Homo sapiens: one gene and its partners. The protein of the gene in region 3 interacts with the protein of the main gene of each other region in a biochemical or structural test. Each region holds a gene or a part of one and is shown on either strand. Other genes may lie near its edges. The genes, in order: FRMPD4, MAGI2, HTR2C, SYNJ2BP, CARD11, PARD3 and MAST1.

Evidence for each region.
Region 1: the proteins of HTR2C (region 3) and FRMPD4 interact in a test that uses a peptide from one of them, tested with the Homo sapiens proteins (one large-scale study listed by IntAct).
Region 2: the proteins of HTR2C (region 3) and MAGI2 interact in a test that uses a peptide from one of them, tested with the Homo sapiens proteins (one large-scale study listed by IntAct).
Region 4: the proteins of HTR2C (region 3) and SYNJ2BP interact in a test that uses a peptide from one of them, tested with the Homo sapiens proteins (one large-scale study listed by IntAct).
Region 5: the proteins of HTR2C (region 3) and CARD11 interact in a test that uses a peptide from one of them, tested with the Homo sapiens proteins (one large-scale study listed by IntAct).
Region 6: the proteins of HTR2C (region 3) and PARD3 interact in a test that uses a peptide from one of them, tested with the Homo sapiens proteins (one large-scale study listed by IntAct).
Region 7: the proteins of HTR2C (region 3) and MAST1 interact in a test that uses a peptide from one of them, tested with the Homo sapiens proteins (one large-scale study listed by IntAct).

What each region holds. Positions count from the first base shown.
Region 1 is NC_000023.11:12,141,473-12,144,972, forward strand, and holds part of FRMPD4 (FERM and PDZ domain-containing protein 4), read left to right. Parts: intron 1-3,500. UniProt on the Homo sapiens protein: Positive regulator of dendritic spine morphogenesis and density. Required for the maintenance of excitatory synaptic transmission. Binds phosphatidylinositol 4,5-bisphosphate.
Region 2 is NC_000007.14:78,257,168-78,260,667, forward strand, and holds part of MAGI2 (membrane-associated guanylate kinase, WW and PDZ domain-containing protein 2), read right to left. Parts: intron 1-3,500. UniProt on the Homo sapiens protein: Seems to act as a scaffold molecule at synaptic junctions by assembling neurotransmitter receptors and cell adhesion proteins. Plays a role in nerve growth factor (NGF)-induced recruitment of RAPGEF2 to late endosomes and neurite outgrowth.
Region 3 is NC_000023.11:114,846,086-114,849,585, reverse strand, and holds part of HTR2C (5-hydroxytryptamine receptor 2C isoform a precursor), read right to left. Parts: intron 1,584-3,500; coding exon 1,383-1,583; intron 1-1,382. UniProt on the Homo sapiens protein: G-protein coupled receptor for 5-hydroxytryptamine (serotonin).
Region 4 is NC_000014.9:70,365,999-70,369,044, forward strand, and holds the end of SYNJ2BP (synaptojanin-2-binding protein), read right to left. Parts: 3' UTR 501-3,046; downstream 1-500. UniProt on the Homo sapiens protein: Regulates endocytosis of activin type 2 receptor kinases through the Ral/RALBP1-dependent pathway and may be involved in suppression of activin-induced signal transduction.
Region 5 is NC_000007.14:2,942,868-2,946,367, forward strand, and holds part of CARD11 (caspase recruitment domain-containing protein 11), read right to left. Parts: intron 3,090-3,500; coding exon 2,952-3,089; intron 1,671-2,951; coding exon 1,345-1,670; exon of another isoform or gene 1,168-1,344; intron 1-1,167. UniProt on the Homo sapiens protein: Adapter protein that plays a key role in adaptive immune response by transducing the activation of NF-kappa-B downstream of T-cell receptor (TCR) and B-cell receptor (BCR) engagement.
Region 6 is NC_000010.11:34,381,797-34,385,296, forward strand, and holds part of PARD3 (partitioning defective 3 homolog), read right to left. Parts: intron 2,459-3,500; coding exon 2,333-2,458; intron 1,127-2,332; coding exon 744-1,126; intron 1-743. UniProt on the Homo sapiens protein: Adapter protein involved in asymmetrical cell division and cell polarization processes. Seems to play a central role in the formation of epithelial tight junctions. Targets the phosphatase PTEN to cell junctions.
Region 7 is NC_000019.10:12,866,015-12,869,514, reverse strand, and holds part of MAST1 (microtubule-associated serine/threonine-protein kinase 1), read right to left. Parts: coding exon 3,413-3,500; intron 2,863-3,412; coding exon 2,753-2,862; intron 2,042-2,752; coding exon 1,863-2,041; intron 1,786-1,862; coding exon 1,538-1,785; intron 873-1,537; coding exon 666-872; intron 450-665; coding exon 220-449; intron 1-219. UniProt on the Homo sapiens protein: Microtubule-associated protein essential for correct brain development. Appears to link the dystrophin/utrophin network with microtubule filaments via the syntrophins. Phosphorylation of DMD or UTRN may modulate their affinities for associated proteins.

The DNA of each region.
Region 1 (3,500 bases), about 100 Mb from region 3:
TTTTGACTTTTTAGAGTGTCTACATTTAACTATTCGTTTCCAGAATCTATACCCTTTTAATCGTGGGAAAAATCAGAATTGACAGTGCCCCTCAATAACCCAGTACCATTAAAAAAAAATTGCTGCCAAGTGTTGGAATTGCTGGTAAGTAGTTGGCACCCTTTACATCATCAGTTAGAGTTATGACCCTTGATTGCATCCTTCGTGGGTGGCACAGTGTGTCATGGTTCTATCTGAAGATGGTTTTTCCCGTTCTTCTAATTTTCTGGTTCTTAAACTGCTTGATAGTTTACATGCAGTTTTACTTCACTGTTTCCTTGGTAACAGTTCTATATTATTTTCCATCCTTGTAGATGAGAGCATTACAGATGATTGCCTTATAAACCAGTAATAGTATAAAAACAGGCATATATTTTTATTGTTACTGCTCTTTGTATTGACTATTTTATTTGTAAAGCAGATGCATTCTTTCAAATGTTTATAGAAGAATGCAGTCCAGTAGAAAAACATATGATTATGCCCCTTTTGCCAGAGGGAGATGATTTGAGATCCAAAACTCATAGGGATGTTATTAAATTGAGTGATATGTTCATAGATTAAGTCCCTGATTTGGCTTCTTTTCTTTAAGCAAAACGGTAGACTTGATGATAATGATTGAGTCCCCACTGTTGATATGATGATTTCTTATAGTAGTAGGTAAATTTGGGGAATGCTTTACTTTGCATTTTCTTATAGTTGCATGGGTTATTTTGTGGTATATAGCAGTGACTAATATCTAATATTAGAATGCTAATTTTCTTACAAGTATCTTATATTTGAGGAAAAATACAAAATACATATGTATAGTTTCCTTAGATTTTTATGTCAAGTCCATTTAGATACTACTAAACTTCTGTCTTTTACCTTTATCTTATTCAGAATTAAATATTTCCCAGGGAAAAGGGGAAGTTAAAGAAGTAATGCAAAAGGTCAGGGTTTTTCCCATATCCCCTATTTTTACTGAGTAATTGTATTAATATTGCTGATAATAGTGAGCTCTGGAGGCTAGCAATGAAAAAACCCCAAAGACTCTGGATTTGAATTTTATTAAAAATGCTACTTGCTCATCTTCTGAATCCTTTCTAAGTTCTGCTGATTTTTGTGACTGTCAGGAGGTGAAATGATGAACAGTTTCATAACAGAACTAGATTCCTGTTTTAGGAATATTTAACTCTAGTTTCCCAAGAGTTGCTAGTTTGAAGCTGTGAAAGTCTAGTCGCTCGCAGTTCTGGGAAGAAGGCGTCTAGGTCAGGCTTTGTACCATTTCAAGCATCTCTCTCTCTCTCTCTTATTGTCTGGGGCAAGTGAGTTTCACCTTCTTGCTATCAGAATTTGGTACAGACTGACAGCTGCAGTGAAACTTACTTGTACTTTAAATGCATGACCTGGAAAGTCTCACTTTCTGCTTATGGTCCTTCCAGCTGTTCATTCTCCCCCTTTACATACACATACACTGTTCAACTTTAGTACTTTGTTATTTCATTTGAGGTTAACCGTGGAAGTTTAGCTGTAAGAGAATGTACATTATTGGTGAACTAGAAATGTATCTTTAAGGAATGAACTTGAAACCACTGGTTTCACACTTGGCTCAATAAGAAAACTCAAGACCGTTTAAAATCTTTGTTTAAGCATACCGTCCTGAAATCTACCACTGTTACCATCAAATGATCTTTAATCTTGAAAGCTAATCATAGCAGGAAAAGAAAATTATGAATAGGCTAAAACAGGGGTTGGCATACTGTGGCCTATGAGCCAAATCTGGCTTGCTGACTGTTATGGCATAGCCTGTGAGCAAAGAATGGTTTCTTTATTTTTAAATGGTTCAAAAATATCAAAAAAAGAATAATATGAAATTAAAATTTCAGTGTCCATAAATAAAGTTTTATTGGAACACATGTCCATTCATTTATGTATTATCTATGGCTGCATTTGCCTGACAACAGCAAAGTTGAATAGATGCCACAGAGACCTTATGGCCTACAAAGCCTAAAATATTTACTCTCTGGCTCTTTACAGAAAAAGTTAACTGACCCCTGGGTTAAACAATGCCTTTTTCCTGTTTTCTCTTCTTTATCATTAGCAGCACACATGTGGGCACACACATGTCAAATCGAGCATATTATAATAAATACTTGAATTCACTGACCCCTGGGTTAAACAATGCCTTTTCCTGTTTTCGCTTCTTTATCATTATCAGCACACATGCGGGCACACACGTCAAATTGAGCATATTATAATAAATACTTGAATTCACTAATGCACATTACCAGTTAATATAGACCTTATCTTTATTGAAACTTCTGATCTCAAATTACTTCTTGAACTGTTGGAAACTGACCATTAGAAGTGGACATAATTGTCCTACTAATTTGTTGCACTTGGAAAAATTATGCATGCTTATTCTTTGGTCACTAAGTTGACCTGATATTTTTGGGGAGCTGGAGAGTTGCTTGTTAAGGTGATGTTTGCCTTCCATAAATATCCAGTTCAAAATGTATGGAAAAAGAATGGGTGATACTACTTGTATAGCCTCAACCAATGTGTGCTGGTGAACTGATAATCAAGTCAACAGGAGAATGCCTAGTATTTCCTTACAGTACACTTGAGCCATCTGGTCCTAATGGCTAATGACCTTCACTAATCTGTTTCCAAATGGAAATAAAACCAGATAAGTGGATTTAGTTGTAGTCAGAGGAATGGAGGTAGGCTGTATCAATTTGGAGTTGAGTTTAATCTAACTTTCCTATGATTTGACTGAGAGCATTATAATGAGAAATCATAGACTACCTTTAGTTCTTTACAGCAAAAACATATATCAAAAGTATGCTGCCTTGCTTCTGAGTAATTTAGGTCATTATGTACTTAAGCTCTGAAAATTATCTTGAAGAAATCTAAGCCTTAGTTTTAGATAACAAAGTTAACATTCCCATTTTTTTTTTTTTCCTGGCAAAGAGATGAGAAGGGTTTTCTGCCAGAACTGTTCTTTCAGAAATATATTTTCAAGTATGGTTTACAGAATTTGGCATAAGATAAATAGTCTATACTAAATAATTAGTGAGTGAAGTCATATACAATTCATTCTAACATTTGTTGCAAACAAATTGTCATATTTGTTTAGCTGAACAATTACCATGTCAGTACTTCTTTATTGAATATAACGGAATACAATGTACATGTTAAAAGTAAATAGCCTGCTCTTGGACTTGGTCTCAGAGAATAAACTTTTATTTCTGTTTTTACATTTGAAGTATATATATATTATATATATAAAATATAATATATATATTTGGTGATTGATGGTTAAAAAGTCATCAACTTGTATTTCCAAGGAGTCTCTGTTTTACTGCTTTAAGCTCAATAAGCAAAGTTATGATGATATTGAAATGGGTTTTTATAGATGTCAGTAAGTTTTTATTTTAGAAAGTCTTTTTTGAAAGCTAGGAAAACACAATCATTTCTAT
Region 2 (3,500 bases), on a different chromosome or scaffold from region 3:
GTTGACACCTTGGCTCTACTATTTAACAGATACATGATATTGACCAAGTTCCCTGCTTTGAGCCACAGTTCCTCATTTGTAAAGTTGTGAGAATGAAATGACATAATGTAGGAAAAGTACTTGGCATAGTGTATGACACACAGTGCTCAATAAATGTGGACTATTATTAATATGATTGTTGTTAAAATAGGATGGAGGAGATTTGGGTCCCTTGGTTTCAAACAGAAAGTTGCCACAGTTCATCCTCTGATCTTAGATAAACTAATATTTCTGTGGATCAGTTTCAATAAAGGCACTTGTCCTTTCTCCCCAGTGAACTATCACAGATTTTCAGAGGTCTACTGGTTAGAGGCTAACTTTATGATTAGAAATGCTCTGAATGCAAATTATCCATTATAAAATATATTCAGAGAAATATTTTTTCCTGCTTAAAATGCAGAAAATCATGGCTGTTTGAGATAAATGTTTTTTTAAAAATTTCAATTATGTATGAATAACAATTTTATTTTTGGAGAACTATTTTATCATGGATTGGTATTTTTATCTTCACAAACCATAATACTTGAAAATTGAGCTTGCAAATTGAGATTGTGCCTGACTATGCTGAGGAGTATATTAGGGATGAAGAGACATGTTTTCACAGATCTTGAAATAAGCAACTCAACAGACATCAGTTTATCAGAATAATTCTGGAATGGGAGGTACAAATGGCTAGGGATTTCATTCTGAGACATCCTTGCCCAGCAAGCTTGCAAACGTTAAAAATGAAAAACAGAGTTGAACTTTTAGAGTTGACAACTTTTCTGGTCTTTTGTAGGTGTATAACATAAAATGAATAAAACAATTAACAGCATTGTCTTAATTAACAGTCCCTCTTCCCAAATTGACAGAGAGGCCAAGCAGACATTTTCAGGGATCCAGGTTAGGTCTGCCTCTAGAAAATGTCACAACCTATGTGATTGGTCAGATGGAACTTCACTTTTCCATAATGTCTATCAGAGAGGGTACTGATGTGGTGGCTGGAACGTGGGTCCACGGCTCAGAACTGAATTGGAGTGGACATTCCCTCACTGTTATTATAATTCCTCTTCAGACTGTGGCAGCTGGGGATGCTTTGGGAATCGTTTTTAATTGATTCCATTCATCTCAGTGTCCCAGAGAAGTGTCTGATTCAGATAGACTATTTTTCTCTCCTGTTTCTTTTAGTTTTAATGTTATATTTTCTACATTTAAAAGGTTGAAAGAACAACAAATACTTGTATACTAACATCCAACTTAATGATTGGAACATTGCTCATATTAGTTGAATCCCCCTTGGCTAGCACCTCTCCCCCAACTTGCACTCCTTTACAGCCCTTTCCAAGGTAACCATTGCCCTATTTGAGGTTTGTTATTTACATATACCTTTATAATTTATATCATATCTAGGTGTCCGTAAAAACAATATCTCTAAATAGTATCTAATCTCTAAATAATAATAATCCCTGGAAAGTATTTTACATATTTTAAGCCTTTTGTAAATGGTATATATTTTAATATTCTGTAACTTTTCTTAAAATATGTTTGTGATATTTATCTATTTTGATACTTGTGCCTCTAGTTGATTAGTTTTCATTGTAATACAGTATTTAGTGATGGCTATATTACTACTTAATAACATTCATCCATTCTTTTGTTAATGGACACCGGAGTTATGACAAATCTGTGGCTATTGAAAATAACTCTGCTATGAACCCCATGCTGGCACAGACCATGTGCATCTTCAACTTTGTTAGATAGTGGCAAATGGCTGACAAAAGAGGTCACATTGATTTACACTCTGATCGGTAGTGTGTTGAAATTTTCATTGCTTTACATCTGACACAGTACTTCGTATTCTCAGACTTAATTTTTACCAATCTAATGGATGTGATCATAGTTTTGATTTGCATTTCCCAGACTGCCAGTGAAGGTGAGCATCTTTTCATGTTTATTGGCCTTTTGGATTTTCTCTTGGGTATGCCTCATTTCCTCAATTTCCTATTCAGTGAGTTTTTTTTAACTCATTGACTATTTTTTATGTCTACTTTCATTCTTGCTCCAACATTCTTCTTAGGTTCAGGAGGCTGCAAGGTATAGTAGAGATCACATGGGATATGAGGTCAAAAGACTTTGGTCTGAGTTCTAGTTTCATCACTTATTAGCTGTATAACTTTCCCAAACTGGCTTCAATCCTCTGTGACTCAGATTTTTTAGAAGTAATGATGAACAATAGTAATAGCAACTTATTGTTCCATGGGAAATAACGAATGAGATCATACAGGTGAAAGGGTTTCTAAGCTGTAAATTGTTATGCAAAAGATGATTGCTATTTCAGTAATTACTCTTTGTCCTTTGTTATATTCTTCTATAAAATCAGGACAGTTCTACCCAGATATTCCCACCACAGTTACAGTCAAGGATGACTTGAGTATGATTGTGGAAACAATGGGTTTCTGAATGGCCAAGTAAAAGTCAGAGAGGTAACAAATGCCACTTCCTCTAAGGCTCTCCCTAACTTTAATCACTGTTAACAGACTCCCCAGTCCCCAAGCACGCTCTCTCCTTCCCTCTGCTCTGCCAGAATTTCACGGGAAAGAACTAAGGGTTATGTTGAAAGCTCTCAAGTTTCCCTGCCAGGTCTAGAGAGTAGTAGTTTGAATTGTAGTGATTAATGTTACCTATTTTTGAGTTTTAATGTGATCTTGCTATTTAGAAACAGAGTGAGAACTATTTGTGTTTCTTAGTAAGACTGCCTTTTACAATTTATGGATATTTTCCACTAACAGCAATTTTTCAAGTCATCAGGCAAGGATAAAGAACACTGCAACAATATCTTTATGAAGATACGTAGAAGATTTCTGAATGTAAAAGATGAGTGGTCAGTTATCACAGGATAAAACTATATAACAACTTGATGGTACTCAACTGCCCACTTTAAAAAAATATATAGATGTCTAGATAATAAGTCATGCCCAAAACTCTTATAGACGGGGATGTCAGCAAACATTTGCTTGTTCAGATAGAACTTATTGGATAGAATATTAATAGACTGTGCTGTATGAATGTCATTTACATGTCGTGAAATAAAAATATAAGACACCTGGTATATGTCATCTGACGGTGCCATGCCAAGTCCTCAGACAGATTGGGTTTAAGAGCACAGAAAGGGACATCATCAGGAAGACTGGCTCTGGCTCTAACCTGTTGGCCTACTTAAGACGGAGAATTGGAAGAGTCACTTGATCTCCCCATCTCTCAATTTCTTCTTTTATAAAATGGGAATAAAAATATCTCTTACATTTCCTCTTTTGCAGAGCTACTGTGAAAATGAGATCATCCTTGTGAAAATACTTATAATTTTATCAAATTTTTTCTCCATAAAAATAAGAAGATACATTTCTTTTGAAAGCTAAGCATATATTTTCATTACTACATTGCTGGAAAATTTACTTTGTTTGCTAAATGGTCATTCACTTCAG
Region 3 (3,500 bases):
TCTGTATTCCTACTCTAGTCCTCCATTGCTTGCGAGTCTGAAATGATCGTCTCCACCTGTCAGTCATATCTTCAGGTTTATAATGCATCATTGGCAAAAGTGAACTAGAAGTCATAATCATTTTTCTTGGGTTTTTGTCTTTTTCTGGATCTTAGCCAATAGCAATTTCTATTTCATTAGCTTCTTAGGGCTTTTAGTGTTTTATCCATGTGTTTATTTGCCTTTAGCACAAGAGTCATTGCAAATTACTCAGTCTTTCATTACTAGAAGCTGATGCAACAATATTCTGTCTGTGTATTTCCTTTGTAAGCACCATAAAAGCTGGCATCTTTTTAGATGAACTCTTTGTGATGGCTAGGGCAAAATCTGTGAACTCTTGAATTTGTAAGTCAAACTTACGTAAATTCATTTTTGTCTTTTGGGACAAGCTTCACGACTTTTTATTCAAAGGTGTCTATGCTATACACAGGCAGAACAATCTACAATAGAACAATCTTAAAACTTAAATGTATTTGATCAATAAACCCAGAGTCAAAATATTTAGATGATATTAGTGAAGATTAAATAGAAGTCTTGATCTTGTTGCACACTTTACCTCAATCTTTACAAAAACATAAATATGAAGAAAAATTATTTACACCAACTGGAAAAGGAAAAAAACATGAAAGTAAAACCCCTAAAGTCCAATTGTTTAAATTTCTTGGCTTTAATATTAGCACTGTTAAGGCATTTATGAATACCTCAAATATAAGCAATAAATGATCATTTCTTTCCCTTTAAACTGCTACAAATCTTTAAAGAAACAAATTTTTTTTTCTTTTTGTATACCCAGAATTCAAGAAGACAATTAAAACTGAGAGAAAATAGTACATTTTAGGTGTCATAGCAACAAAAATTTAGACATATTTACTTGATGATGATTTAGATTGCATTATTAATTTTTCTACTGAAAAGGATAGGAATTTAGAATAAAAATACTAAGGTTAATATTCTGGGATACATGTAACTTTTCAATATAAGATTGAAATGTTATATTTTTAAAATTTAGACTTTAATTAGACTTTATGTCTTTCTCATTTTCAAAGCATTTTAAATATTTCAAACATTTTGTATCTGTGTTGCAGAATTCATTGGCATACTAATGCATAAAATAATTTAGCAGCATAAATGGAAACTTTATATTTACATATTAATACACATTACATTCCTTTCATTATTGTTAACCTAAATATCAGATAAATAGGTTAAGAATAATTACTAAATAAAAGAACCCGATCAAACGCAAATGTTACCAGTCGACGTCTGTACGTTGTTCACAGTACATAATCCGAAAGTATTGAGCATAGCCGCTGCAATTCTTATGGCCAAAAAGTTTTATTTACCTATAGAAATTGCCCAAACAATAGCAATCTTCATGATGGCCTTAGTCCGCGAATTGAAACGGCTATGCTCAATAGGATTACGTATTGCTACATACCGATCCAGCGATATAGCGCAGAGGTGCATGATGGACGCTGTTGAAAATAAAACATCTAAAGAAATCCAGACGGGGCACAAATATCTAGGTAGTGGCCAGACATAATCTGAAAGAGAACAGAGAGAAGACAAGAACACGTCATCCAAATTGTACTGACTATAGTCTCAAATTTTAGTCTGCTTATATTTTCTCATAATCTAAACCTTTTAAAGAAAGTGAAATTTAGGAAGCATTATTTTCTATAGGGATGATGATGGTGATCATGATAATGATACCTTCAGCGTGACATATATTTTATTGAGGTAAAATTTACACAACATAAAATTAATCTCTTTAAAGTGTACAATCCAATGGCATCTAGTACATTCACAATATTGTGCAACTAGCATCTGTCTCTAGTTCAGAAACATTTCATCACTCCAAAAGGAAACTGCATACCGTTAAGCAGTTACTTCCCATTCTCCCATCAACCAGCTCCTGGCAATCTCTAATTTGCTTTTTATCTTTTTTTTTTAATTATTATTATACTTTAAGTTTTAGGGTACATGTGCACAATGTGCAGGTTAGTTACATATGTATACATGTGCTATGCTGGTGTGCTGCACCCATTAACTCGTCATTTAGCATTAGGTATATATCCTAATGCTACCCCTCCCCCCTCCCCCCACCCCACAACAGTCCCCAGAGTGTGATGTTCCCCTTCCTGTGTCCATGTGTTCTCATTGTTCAATTCCCACCTATGAGTGAGAACATGCAGTGTTTGGTTTTTTGTCCTTGCGATAGTTTACTGAGAATGATGATTTCCAATTTCATCCATGTCCCTACAAAGGACATGAACTCATCATTTTTTATGGCTGCATAGTATTCCATGGTGTATATGTGCCACATTTTCTTAATCCAGTCTATGGATTTAACTAATTTGGATATTTCATATAAATAGAATCATACAATTTGTGACTTTTTGGGTCTGGCTTCTTTCACCTAGCTAATGTTTTTGAGGTTTATCTATTTCGTAGCATGTATCAATACTTAATTCTTCTTTGTGGCTGATGCTGTTATCAATTGAGGTTTTTTTGGAAGCTGTTGTAAATAGAATTGTTTTCTTAAATTCTTTCATGGATTGTTCATCACTGTGTATAGAACTACAAATGTCCTGCAACTTTGCTGAATTCATTTATTAGAGCTATGTTTTGTGTTGACTCTTTGGGATTTTCCATATATAAGATCATGTCTTCTGCAAATAGAAATAATTTGATTTATTCTTTTCCAATTTTCCTCTGCCTTTTATTTCCTCTCTTTGCCTAATTTCTCTACATGGAATTTTCAGTACCATGATAAATAGAACTAATGAAGTTGGGCATTCTGCCTTTTTTCCCTGATCTTAGAGGAAAATCAGTCTTTCACTATTGACTGGGTTTTGTTTTTGTTTTTTATAAATGCCTGTCAAGGACATTTTCTTTTATTCCTAGTTTGTTGAACATTTTTTTATCATAAAAAAGTGATGGACTTTTGCAAATGCTTTTTCTGCATCAATTGACATAATCATGTGGTTTGCATACCTTCATTCTATTAATGTGATACATTACATTGATTAGTTTCTGTATGTTGAATCCCTCTTGCATCCCTGAGATAAATCCCATTTAGTAATGGGTATATAATATGGTGCTGAATTTAGTTTGCTAGTATTTTATTGAAGACTTTTGCATTTATATTAATAAACAATACTAATCTATAATTTTCTTGTAATGTCTTTAGCTGGCTTTGATATTAAGATAATGCCAGTCTAATAGAATATATTACAAAATGTTTCTTCATCTTCTATTTTTTAGAAGAGTTTGAGAAGAATTGGTGTTAATTTTTGAAATGTTCGGTGAAATTCAAAAGGAAAACTTCTTGTCTTGAGCTTTCATTGTTGAGAGGTATTTGATCACTGATTCAATGTAGTTACTTTTTATATGACTCTTCAGATTATTTCTCCTTGAGTCACTTTTGGTAGTATGTGTGTTTTTAGAAATTTTTACAT
Region 4 (3,046 bases), on a different chromosome or scaffold from region 3:
CAGTGCCTGGTACCATGGGAAGTAGAGACAGTAAGGTGTTATAGTTATGAATGCAGGTTTTGAAGCCAGATTGCCTGGGTTTAAATCACAGCTTTGGCACTTAGTAGCTGTATAACTTGGGCAAGTTACTTAACCTCTCTATGCCTTTTATCTATAAAATGAAGATAACAACAGCAGTTATCTTAAGAGTTGTTTTGAGGCTTAAATAAATATTATACATGCAAAGGCCTTAGAACAAAAGCTGGAATATTGATAAGAGCTCCATAATTGTTAACAGGATATCAATGTCCTGTTCCTTATCTCCTATGTCAAAGCCTCAAACTGATCATTTAGATTTCTTCCTCTTTCCACAATTCTGTCAGAGGTGTTACCCTAAGAATATCTAGTACATAGTAAGCACTTATCAGATATTTGCTGAATGAAGGAAAAAACCCTCATCTGGAAGAAAAAAAAATGAGATATTTAATCAACGGTCTTCAAAATAAGGTGAAAAAAGATTGTAAAGATTCAATGACAAAGTTTTATTAAATACCAATACTGGCTAGGCACAATTAGACACATTATTATCTCATTTGCTGTATCTGGTATCAAACAACAAAGCCTGAAAGATTACCATAGATTTTGATGGCCTCATTAACATAATTAATCCGTAGTGACATTCCCTGGATAATAAATACAGTTTTATGTCCGTGTGTCTTCTGTGTCTTCCAAGTTGCTACAGGGCTCTATTTGATCTGAGAAACTGACTGCTGTTTACATCCAGGTATGCAATGTGACATTAGAATTGAAGCAGAAAGGAAGCAAAACAAAACAGGGTTCATGAGGAAAATAATCTTCTAAGAACTAACATGGCCTGGAGGTAAAATGCAAATATATCCGGTAATAAGAAGCCCAGATTACTGCAGATAAAAGATTAAAATAGGATTCAATTATTCATCTCCATTTGCAAATCTACAAACTAGGAGGAAGGACTAACCCTTTTCCTGGGATTAGTAACTAAATTTAATGATTACAGCAAATATAAAGTTCTTTTGTAAATTATTGTTGGTTAAGGATTGACTTGCATTGACAACACACTTTAGCTCTCGCCCCTTTCATTCTCCCCCTGCAAGAACAAAGGCAAAATGAACAGTGAGGAAAACCTGGAAACAGGACCGAGTGTTTGCTATCACTTGATTCCTTTGAAGGAGCAATGCTTTCTCATAATATAGGTTTTATAGTATCATCAAGTACATCAGTTAAGCAAATCAAGTGCTTTGTGTTCTGTATATAAATTACATAATACAAGAGTCTGTGGCAGTTAAGAATCTGGTTCTGCACTTTGGGAGGCCGAGATGGGTGGATCACGAGGTCAGGAATTCAAGACCAGCCTGGCCAAGATGCTGAAACCCCGTGTCTACTAAAAATACAAAAATTAGCCAGGCGTTGTGGCACACACCTGTAATCCCAACTACTGGGGAGGCTGAGGCAGGAGAATCGCTTGAACCCGGGCGGCAGAGATTGCAGTGAGCTGAGATCGTGCCACTGCACTCCAGCCTAGGCGACAGAGCAAGACTCCGTCTCAAAAAAAAAAAAAAAAAAAAAAAAAAGAAAAGAAAAGAATCTGGTTCTGATCAGAATCCTTAAAATACTGTCTTCTTTTTTATCACAATTGCCCTTTTGGATGTGAGTGCTGGTCTCAAAAAGATTTGCAGTTAAAAGAGGAACAGCAAAAAAGACTTACACCAAAATAGCAACCAACTCTAAAACTATTACAGGTGAGAGGTAGACAGCTTCATAACTCAATCTTCTACTACCAGGTGATGTTAAAAAAATACTTTAACATCAAAATCACCTACAAATATTCCTCCACTTTCATATGCTGAGCAATTTCAGCTTAGAGTGACTAAGTGTTATTTATCTCTCTATCTTCGGCACCTAGCACATAGTAGGCAGTCATTAGTTATTTGCTGAATGAAGGAAAAAAACCTTCATCTGACCAACGATAAATTTCACTAAAATTGACTATAATAAAATCTGTATGGGCTCCACATGAAAACTACATGAACTTCACTTCCCCACATACCTGACAGCCTATACACTTCCTTATGTTTCATTTCTTTAAATATACTTTAAAAATTGCTTATTTACACAATAAAAACAATGTCCACCATAAAAAAAAAAGTCTCTAGAACTATTGGAATTAGTCTCAGAATAACTCATCTGATTGGATTTGATATGAGATCATTCTCAGATTGTTCTGTGGAATCTCCCAATTCCAATAATGATGCTTGCAATATCCTTTAGCTGTCTATCAGTTCTGGTCTTTATTCAGGCCCAAAGAGAGAAGAAAGAAGTAGACTAAGATAAAATGGGTAGTCTGTGTATTCATGTAGTGAATATATTCAAGACATAAATATGAGACAGAAAGGTCACTTCTGCAACAAACTAAGTCTGATCAGAGTTAAGTTAGCTTCCCTCTCTGAGCCTTTATTTTTCTCATCTCTAAGACAGATTCATCCTAGAAGCTCTCTGGTCCTTTTTAGCTTCAATGTTCTATGATTGGTTCTCATTTAATTGATGCACCAACTGAAACACTCACTAATCATACATTTTGCTGGAGGTTGATCAATCCTTAGCAAATCAGGAAGAAATGAATGTTCCACTTACTTCGTGCAGAAGCTCAGGAAGCTGGGCTCTAAAGGCCCAAGTTTTTGTTGTTGTTGTTGTTGTTGTTGTTTTGCCTGAAGCAATGTATGTAATTTAATAATTTAAATAGTGTTTAATTAAATAGTGTCTTGTTTAAATGCTATATAACATTTTCAACTGCGGCTGCACACCAGAATCACTCAATGAACTTTATTTTACTGCTGCTTGAGTCCCACCCTCAGAGGTTCCTTTTAATTGATCTGTGTGCAGCCTGGGCATGGGGACGTTTATAAGCTCTCCAGATGATTCTAACCTGAGCAAAGGGAATGATGACTGGCATAGAGCAATGAGTCTCAAACTTTAGCATGAATCAGTCACCTGGAAGGATTACAAAAACACAGATTGTGAGATGCCACGC
Region 5 (3,500 bases), on a different chromosome or scaffold from region 3:
TCATCCCTTCAGATCTCTCTTCATGTGTCTCCTTCTCAGAGACCTTTCCTGGACACCCTAGTTAAAGTAGCAATCCTCATGTTCTGTCCTCACGCCCTGTCTTCTCTTCTTGATAGCACTCATTTCTACCAAGTATCTATGCATTTGTTTTCTGATTACAATGTTAGTTCCACGACAGAAGGGTTTTAGTCTTCAGCTATGTATCCCTGGAAAAGAGCCTGGGGGCCAGGTGTGGTGGCTTATACCTGTAATCCCAGCACTTTGGGAGGCCAAGTGTGCAGATTGCCCGAGCCCAGGAGTTCAAGACCAGCCTGGGCAACATGGTGAAACCCTGTCTTTACTAAAAATAGAAAAAGGGGGGTGGGTAGGATAAAAATAGAAAAAAATTAGCTGGCATAGCATGTACCTGTAGTCCCAGCTACTTGGGAGGCTAAGGTGGGAGGATCACCTGAGCCTGCAAGGCCAAAGCTACAGTGAGCTGTGATCACACCACTGCACTCCAGCCTGGGTGACAGAGTGAGACTCTGTCCAAAAAACTCCTCCAAAAAACCCAAAAACAAAAAGCCTGGTACCCGATGGAACTCAATAAACAGAAAGAATGAACGAGGCCGGGTGCAGTGGCTCATACCTGTAATCCCACCACTTTGTAAGGCCAAGGGAGGCAGATCACTTGAGCCCAGGAGTTGCAGATCAGCCTGGGCAAAATAGCGAGACCCCTTTTCTACAAAAAAATTGAAAGAATAGCCTGGCGTGATGGTGGGCACCTGTAGTCCCAGCTACTTTGGAGGCTGAGACAGGAGGATCACTTGAGTCTAGGAGGTCAAGGCTTCAGTGAGCCATGATCACACCACTGCAGCCTGGGCAGTGGAAGACCCTGTCTCAAAAAAAAAAAAAAAAAAAAAAAAAAAAAAGAAAAGAAAAAGAAAGAAAGAAAAGAAGGAAAGGAAAATAAAAGAAAAGAAAAAAGAAGATGTAAATCTCCTTAATTCATTTGCGGAGTGAGCCATTCTGGGTCTGCATGCGCATGTGCAAGGTGGATCTGGGACTGAGCCGGTGGTGGAAAGCTGCGCACTGGGTCGGTCCTTGTGCGCATGTCTGCCCATGCGCACAGGGGATGTAGGCCGCTTACCCGGTAGCGCTAAGCACTATGGGTACACGTGCAGGTGCATAGTGGACCTAGAACTCCCAGAGGCCCTGTGTCCTCCATTCCCCCACACCTGGCTGGCAGGAAGCTCCGGCAGACCACGTGCATGTGCCTGCACCTGCTTTATGGGAGAATTGAGCCCTGGTGACATTTGTTTCCCCCGGGTCACCCTGGCGGAGTAGCCCTTGGGCACCCCTCACCTCGAGTTGGAGGTCTCGGCTCCTCATGACCGCCATGTTCTTCTCCTCACTGAGCTGTGCGTAGCGCATGGCTAAGTTGTAGTTGTCGTCCTTCACCTTGACCAGCTCGTCATTGTAGCTGTCCCGCTCTTCCTTCATCTTGTAGTACCGCTCCTGGAAGGTTAGCAGCTCCACGCGCGTCAGCGTCATCTGCTTCTTCTCATCCTCCAGCTGCCGCAACCTGGCCAGCAGCTCGCAGCGTTGCAGGTCCTTGGCCTTCATCTGCTGCTGCAGCTTGATGACCTCGTTCATCAGGAAGTGCGTGAGGCCCTCGTGGCCTTCCTCCACTGTGGAGAGGGGGCACCCAGTCAGGCCTGAGGACTGGGAAGTGGAAAAAGGAGGTTCCAGACGCAGGGCAGGTGCCATTCATTCACTCACTCACCAACGTTGTGCCAAGCTCTTTACTCACTCTGCCCACGAGGCACTGGGGATTCAGAGTGAGCGAGACTCACAGCCTTGGCCCCGGGAGAGCTTAGGGTGTAATAAGAGAAACACATTTAAAAAAATCAAATGATACCACAAATAGAATTACAGACCGTGAGGATTTCACAAAGTAAAGGTAGATGGGGCTATGAGAGTGTGTAGCAGGGGCCCAGATCCAGCCTTGTGGGCAGAGGGGGTTGGAGAAGGCTCCTGATGGTTGAGGTAAAATGTTAAGTTCGGGTGGGAAAAGGCATTCTAGGAAAGGGGAACAACATTGCCAAGGCCATATGGGGAGGAGGGAGGAACTTGGCATATTTCAGGAACTGAACGAAGACCAAAGTGGCCGAAGGAGAGAGAGAGAAGAGAAAGGCGAGGCTGGTGGTGTCAGCAGGGACTGGATCATGAAGGGTCCTTGTGGGCTGCATTAAAGACCTGGGACTTTTTTTATATTTTAAAACAGGGTCTCGCTCTATTACCCAGGCTGGAGTGCAGGGGCATGATCATAGCTTATTGCAGCCTGGAACTCCTGGGCTCAAGCAATTCTATGGCTGCAGCCTCCAAAAGTGTTGGAATTTCAGGCATGAGCCACTGTGCCTGGCCAAGACCTGGGTCTTTACAAAGAAGCAATGAAAAACCACCAAAGGGTTTTAAATAGGGGAGGAAGAATGGAGAAAGCACTGGAACAGATCGGGAATGGATATGGAGAGTTAATGGGGTTGTGGGAGTCTGGACTGTGGGAAGTGTTGGGGCGGGCGAGAAGACTGATTCAAGAATGTTTAGAAAGGAAGATTAAGAAGGCAAGATGCTCAAGGGCTCTGGCCCATGAGACACTAGAAAGAATGCAGGCAAGGCAAGGACAAGATCTACGGGGTAGAATGAACTTGTGTTCCACCTGGCGCCATTCATGGGGGATGGTCCGTGAACACCCACTTCTCTTGGTTCCTGCTTCCCTTTGCCCCTGTTAACCTTTCATCATCAAGCAAAATAAGTGGTTGACAGACCCCAGTTCTATATGTCATAGATTCACAGCTTAAGAACCATGCCACTACTGAGGACACACACACACACACACACACACACAGACACACACACACACACGCCCCTCCTCTTAGAGTCCAGATGTTCCCAATGGCAAAAGCACTTACCCACAATGGTGGAGAATCTCCGAGTGGGCTCTTTCCCAGTCACCAGTTTGTACAGTTCTGGGTAATAAAATTCTAGGCTCTCCAAGAAGACCACATAGCCCCTTTGCCCCTTGGTATGTAGAATGTCCAACAGCCGGCCTAGGGGAAAGACCAGATCACTCTGTGAGAATACATATCTGATGGAACGCAAGTCTCTGTGGCTGGTCTCATCCTGGACTTGTGTCCTTCAATCAACTCTAAGAAGACAGTCTCCCCACATTCTATCACTTCTGAGTTGTATCTTGGAGCCCAGATGACGTAAATCAAGGTGCCAGGCCCTCCGCAGGGATTTGGTGAGCGTTAGTTTTCTGTTTCTAATAAACTGGTAGAACCAGGATAAATGGAATTGCCGCCCCAGTTTTGAAGAGTTTCCCAACTGACCAGGGCCAAAATGAACCACGTAGGCACCAGGTCTTCTATGACTGAAGGAGGTTGGAAGCACGATAAAAATTATGGAATAATATATGGTTCTCTGGGATTGAGAGCAGGAAGACAAATCTTTGGGTGAGA
Region 6 (3,500 bases), on a different chromosome or scaffold from region 3:
CGGCATGTGCCTCTAGTCACAGCACTTGGAAGGCTGACATGGGGTGTTGCGGGCTACGGTGAGCTATGACTGCACCACTGCACTGTAGCCTGGGCAACAAAGAAAGGCCCTGTCTCAAAAAAAAAAAAAAAAAAAAAAAAAAAAAGAAAGAAAAAGAAAAGAGAGGAAAAGAAAAGAAAAAAAAGAAAGGGAAGTAATGCAATAATACAAGAAAACAAAAGACAAGAGTCAATGGCCTGGCTTCTCAGCAACCTACTATAAACTCCTGGCAGCCTCAAACAAATTGGTCCCTCCCCACATCAAATACTGAGATTGACGTGCACTACCTCTAAAGTCCTCCTTGAGGGCTGGACTTATACAGCAAATGGGGCAGTCAAAATGGTCAAATCCTTACTATTGTTCTGCATTTGATATTAATGTCCTGAAGCCATTTTCTTTCACAATCAAAAATTTTACTACAGTAACTGCTATCTTCTTCTCATAGACATAGTCTTATTCTCTGCACTTTTACATTTTAATTTCTACAGAGCAAAATAAACCTGAGACATATAAGAAATACAATTTGAAATATGTTAAAAGGTAAGTAACTTTAAAAAATCTATCAGTTCTTTCACAAAATAATTAGATAAGACTCAGGGTGCTTTGGGTTAGTAGGTTGACTTTTAAAATAAATTCCATTTCTACCCTTGTGTGTTGCTGCTAAGAAAAGAAATTCCACAAAACAAAAACAGGATAGGTCGTACCTTTCTTAAGCTGGATATTAAGCCTCTTGCCTATTTTTTTGGTGTTATAACCACTGCTTACAGTCGTACTAAATACATTCTGAGGTGCCGAGGCTGGAGCGGATGGTGGTTTTCCCGAGGGGTGTGCGCTATGAGGTAGTCTTGAGTGAGAGTCTATCTGCTCAGGCGGGTGGTTCAGTCGGGGTGCTCTCTGCACCGTGTGAAGCCCTGCACTGTTCACACTCCTGTTGTCAATATACTGGCTGTCAGGGCTAAAACGGCTTGAATAGTAATTGTTCTTCTCACTTTGGGATAGTTGTTCATACTGCTCTTTATTTGCTGCAGGAACCACATGGAACCAAATGATGGGTGTACGCATGGCTTGGCGAAACATATGTTGTGCTCTGGGTTTGAGAAAGAATAGAAAATTAGCAAATTAAGACTGGCAGACTAGAAGATATTATGAGCTTAATTAAGTTTACTAATTAAGCAATAAGAACTGACAGGCTGTTGAAATTGAAAAGCAAAATTCTAATAACCCATTTATCAATCAAGTTTGCAGCTCTGATCTATCAATAGCTGTTTCTTCAAATATAAATTTCTCATTCTCTCAATAAAAATAGAAAAATTATCTACAACTACAGATAAAATTCTGTCCTCTCAACTGTAAATCATTAAACATGTTTTAAGTATAACAAGTATTATAATTTCAATAATAGAAACCAAATGGAACATTCTCTCTACAACATTGTCTAATACAACTTGTAGACATTACAAAATACTTCAATTTAAGTTTTCAAAGAAAGACAGAGCTTTATAATTATATTTAGAATATTGGATTGGGTTAGATGTGTATTTAAAATTTTTAAAATACACACACACACACACACACACTTAGAAGACTATAGAAAGTAACTATTAATTATTTATTAAGTTGGTATATGTAAAAATCTCAAGAACAGCAATCCAGGCTCAATAATTCAAAATGTTGACAGCTGTGGGTCACAGTGCACCCATACAACCAGCCTGGGAAGCAGCTCTTTCTCATGCTGGTTCCCTGGTCAGGACCTCAAGTTCTTAAGAGTTCTGTTTGCTCCTGCCTTGTTTTATAAGAACTGGCCAACTGTTATGTTTTTCATTGACTAAGGGCCTGAATCAAGATAAAGTGTATCTGAATACAACCCAATATTGTATCTGAATACAACCCAAGATAAAGTGTATCTGAATACAACCTCAAGCAGATACAAACAGCTTTATCTGCTTGTTTGTATCTAGAGAAACTGTGTGCAGCAAAGGTGGACGGGTGAGTTAAAGTATGATAAAAATGGGCACACTGTCAATTTTCCAAAAGGAGAGGAACCAGCAAAATTGTAAAGTTGAAATGGGGGCCATAATACTTAAGAAGAGCTATATCCATCAGAGGACATTTTGAAATATAGTCTAATGGTATTAATTACTGAGTATGTTTAAATTTTTAAAAGCTAATGGCAGAAAATATTCCTCTCCAGTATACAGACTGAGATCACAGACATGTTTGAAGCATTTCAACTGACTGCACTCTGTCATGCCTAATGCAAGTAAGAACAGAAGTGCAGCGAGCACACACTTACTGTTCAAATCTTCTATTTCGAAGGTCGCCATCATTAATCCTGACAATGCAATCATTCTCACGAAAAAGATTTTCATGTTCAGCTTTACCACCTTTCTCCAATCGTTTTACTAATAACCCCAGGGTTCTGGAACATTAAGAATGCAAATGATTACACATGTAATATCTCCACCATGCACACTGCCTTACCACTTTAATGCTGTTATTATATTTACAAAGATGTCCTTACAAAGGAGCATGTTAAAATGACTATTCATACATTTTTAAATGACAGACAAAAACCACAACGTTAAAATGACATGTAAAAATGCATCCCTTCCATAAATGTAAAAAATCAGTTTCTGGCTGGTCAGTATTATGTTTCTAGAACAAGCTATAACACTCTCTCTGTTTACAAATGCCCCAAACAGAGCCCGCCTAATGGTTGAGTGGGTATTGCAGTGTGGAGGATGGATAAGCATGTATTTTTGAATGGCTTGGGCAATTTTCTGTTTTAAGCCAGCTGGCACGCTAGCTTAAAAGACGACTGCAACTCCCATCTTTCTGTGAAAGTAAAGGTAATGAGGAAAAGCTAACCTCATTGCACTGCAGGTTTGAGAATGATAATAGGAAAGATTTCAGGAATAAAGGAGTTTCCATGCTTTGCATTTGAATTTGATAGTGCTTAGTATTGTGAATTTCAAAACCTGTCAGGTCTCCCAAAAGTAAGTCATTTATTGTCAATATTCCCATTTGGAAAAACAAATGACCCAACAGAAAAACGTCAGTGAGAGGTTCAAATAATGCCAATCACCATTCATCTCTTCCACATATGTACTCACTCAGGTTGAAAGAAAAGTGTGAATGACCTTTGAGAGACCCCCTACTTGCTCTAGAACACTAACTTCATAACTGACAGGACATTCTATACAGACTGGGACAAATAAGAAATACTTCTTTAAATCACAGTATAAGCAACAGGGGTCTTAACCTAGCTCTGATTGCTGTTATTTTTATTTTTTTAGTCTTATTTTATTCTTTTTTGAGATGGAGTTTCGTTCTTGTCGTCCAGGCTGTAGTGCAATAGCATGATCTTGGTTCATTGCAACCTCCACCACCTGGGTTCAAGCGATTCTCCTGCCTCAGCCTCCTGAGTAGCTGGGATCACAGGCATGCGCCACCATGCCCAG
Region 7 (3,500 bases), on a different chromosome or scaffold from region 3:
TTGCAGTGAGCCGAGATCCTGCCACTGCACTCCGGCCTGGCGACACAGTGAGTCTCCGCCTAAAATAAAAAAGTAAAAGAAAAAAGAAACAGGTTTAGAGAGGGAAGAGGCATAGAGGGTCACAGAGGTGTCTCACCCAGGCTAACTGGTTTGAGCTGGAGGGGCCTTTTCCCCACCACCCTCCACTCTGTGATGGAGACTCCACCCATGAGTACTCACCCAGACAATGTGGTGGACACTATAGACATCCGTGTCACCCATGTAGACACGGATGGCACGCAGTGTGAAGCCATACTTCTTGCCCGAGCGCTGGATGGTGATGGGGGAGCGGAGCCCACTGACAGCTGGTGAGTAGTCCCGGCTGGGTGAGGAGTCCCGTGAGGATGGGTTGGAGGACAGAGATCGTGGAGACATGGGACTAGCAAGGGGTGAACTTCCATGTGGGTCCACTACAGACACACAACCATGGTCAGAAATCAGAACCAAGAAGATAGACATCTCCCTGTATCTGCTCCTCCCTCCTCCCAAGGCAGTGGCAGAGCAGCCTCTCATTGGTCCAGCCTGGAGCCAATCACGGTGGACAGGGAAAATGCAGCATTTTCATTGGTCTGTCCTGCCTCAAATGGGGGGCAGCCCCTCCCCTGCCAGGTGGGGCCCAGCATTACCTGCAGGAATCATGACAGATAAGGCAGTGGCTGAGGCTGATTTGATGACTTTGCCCCCAGTTCGAGAAGGCCTCTTCTCTACTGCCACATCCCCTGACATCTGCTGGTGCCGCGCCCGGCGCAGAACCAAGTCATTGGTAGCCCTTGGGCCTGATGCATCCCCATCCTTCGAGGGTGGGCAGAGGTCACCTGGGCGTGGACGGTCAGCTGCAACAGAAAGCAAGTGTGTTAGGAATTAGTCCAAGGCCAGGGATTTCCCACATACTGTTTCCCTGCCTGGAATGCTCTTTCCACTTTTTACCCTTGATGGATGGTGAGTTTCATCTGAGCAGGTAACCTGCATGCCTCACTGCTCCTCATATAGAGACATAGTCTGTATCGGTCTGTATCACTGACTGACCATGGTATTGGGGTGTTTCTAATGTTAAGAATCCCAAATTGGGCTGGGTGTGGTGGCTCACGACTGTAACCCCAGCACTTTGGTAGGCCAAGGAAGGCAGATCACTTGAGGTCAGGAGTTCGAGACCAGCCTTGCCAACATGAAGAAACCCTGTCTCTACTAAAAATACAAAAATTAGCCGGGGGTAGTGGCGCGCGCCTGTAATCCCAGCTACTCGGGAGGCTGAGGTGCGAGAACCACTTGAACTTGGGAGGTGGAGGTTGCAGTGAGCCGAGATCACGCCACTGCACTCCATCCTGGGTGATGGAGTGAGACTCTGTCTCAAAAAAAAAAAAAAAAAAAAAAATCCCAAATTGCAATGTGAATAGGACCTGAGATCTTTCATAAACAGCACCAGGCTCGTGGGATGCTCACTATATGACCAGTAGGACATTGGGGAAGATTGGGGAAGGCAGCACGATAGGGCACTCACTGGCCTCGGAGTCCCCGGCGCTGGAGGTGCCTTCCCCTTGAGTCTCCTCTTTGGGGGCCCGTGCATCCAGGGATCCCGCGGGGTCGGAGCTGGGCCGGGGAGGCCTGCGCAGCCGGGCCTCATCCTCGTCCTCTTGGGGGGCGCTGAAGCGGCTGGGCTCCAGCAGCGCCGAGAAACGGCGGCGGGCGCCCAAAGGGGGACTGGCCTCTCCCTCCAGGAAACTGGCCTCGGACGCGGAGAATCGCTTGCTGCATGGAGGGGGCGTGGTTATGGAAGACACGCCCCCTTCGACCCCGCCCCCAAACTCCGCCATTCCCCTGCTCACATCTCCGGAGAGCCCCCTCTCCAGGTCTTCTCACGCAGGGTCAGGCCGCCCAGCCCCTCCCGCTTGCCGGCCACCTTCTCCTCGGGGCCCTTGGTGCTCGGCTCCCGCTTGCTGCTCCCTGCAGCTGCTACTGGGGTCTTGGGCTCGTGCTGCGACAGCTGCTCCATGCTGCTATACACCTGTAGGTGGTGGTGGGAGGCAAGTCCAGCCCGGGTTCCACTTTCACTCCGGAGCTAATCAGCTTCCTGGCAGTGGATCCCCCGCAAAACGCACTCCACCCTCCGAGGCCTGGCTCCGCCCAATTGTGCATGATCCCCCAACCTACAATTCTTCAGTTCAGGCCCCACACCACAAAGTTAGGCACTGCGTTTTATTCTAGGCTCTGCCCCGACGATGCCCTGACCAATCTGCTCTCTACACAGCCCCATCTTCCCAGCAACCCCCTTAATTTATGTCTCCTTAGCCCAGGCTAGGCCCTGCACGCCTCTACAAGTTGCTTCTCAAAGCAAGGCCTATGGCTTCTCTGCCCGTTATTAGAAAAAATAAAAATAAATAAATAAAAGCAAGACTTCGCTGGGCTTTACTCCGCCTTCGCTGCTGGCCTCATTCCCACGTCCTGACCCCGCCCCACCCACACCTAGCCCCGCCCCACCATGGCCTCAATCTGCACAACTGTCCTGATTCCTGTTAGATTCCACTCAGTGCCAAAGGCCCGTCCCATAGACTCCCGAACCTGCCTCTTGCGTGGCCTTACCACCTTCCAGACTCCCGCCCCATCAATAACTTCCCGCTCCTGAGACCTTGGGCACCAGGGAACCTGTTTCTCACTGTCTCTCCAAGCCCCATCCCTCCTGGGGTCTCGCCCTGTCCCACACCCAGACTTGGCCCACCTTGCTGAAGCGCGGAGAGCAGGAAGAGAACTGGCGGATTTCCACGGGCTCCTCCTCCGTCGTGTCATCCTCGTCATAGGAGTTCACGTGGTGATACCTGTCTGAGCGGGCTGGGGAGCGGGTATGGGCTGTGACTGAGGGTACGGGGTTCCTCCTCATATCACATCCCCACAGGAGCCCAGTCCTGGTTCAAGACGGGTTTACAAGTCTTCAGGTCAGGCCACGCCCCTGCCTCATTAGTGTATTTAATTTAGGCTCCGCTCCCAGGCAAGGTCCTTGCCCCATTCTCAGTGGCACCGTCTAGCCCCGCCTCCAAAGAGGCCACGCTCCACCTACAGTGCTCTGCACCCTGGCATCACCCCAGGCCATTCTGAGCGCTAGTACCTCTCTCTAGTTCAGTTCCAGGCCCACACTCACAACTCACCCAGGCCAGGCCCCACACCTAGCCCAATCTCAGGTTCTTACCTACATTTCAGCCTGAGCCCCGCCTGTATGTCAGCCCCGCCCCACTTGGCCCCGCCCCCACCAAAATACCACCTTCGCACCTAGGCATCACATCTTGGTACTTAGCCAGGCCCTATCCCAGGCTTTACTTACCCCAGGGTCCCTCTTCCCGGATCCCACCCCTCGACCCAGGTCGTGCCTGGTGTCCCAGCTCACTGTCAAAGTAGCTAGTGTCATCTTCCGACTCTAGGTGGGGGATGAACTCGGCCTTCTGCCTCAGCAGCCCTGTCCAGTCCAGGTCTCG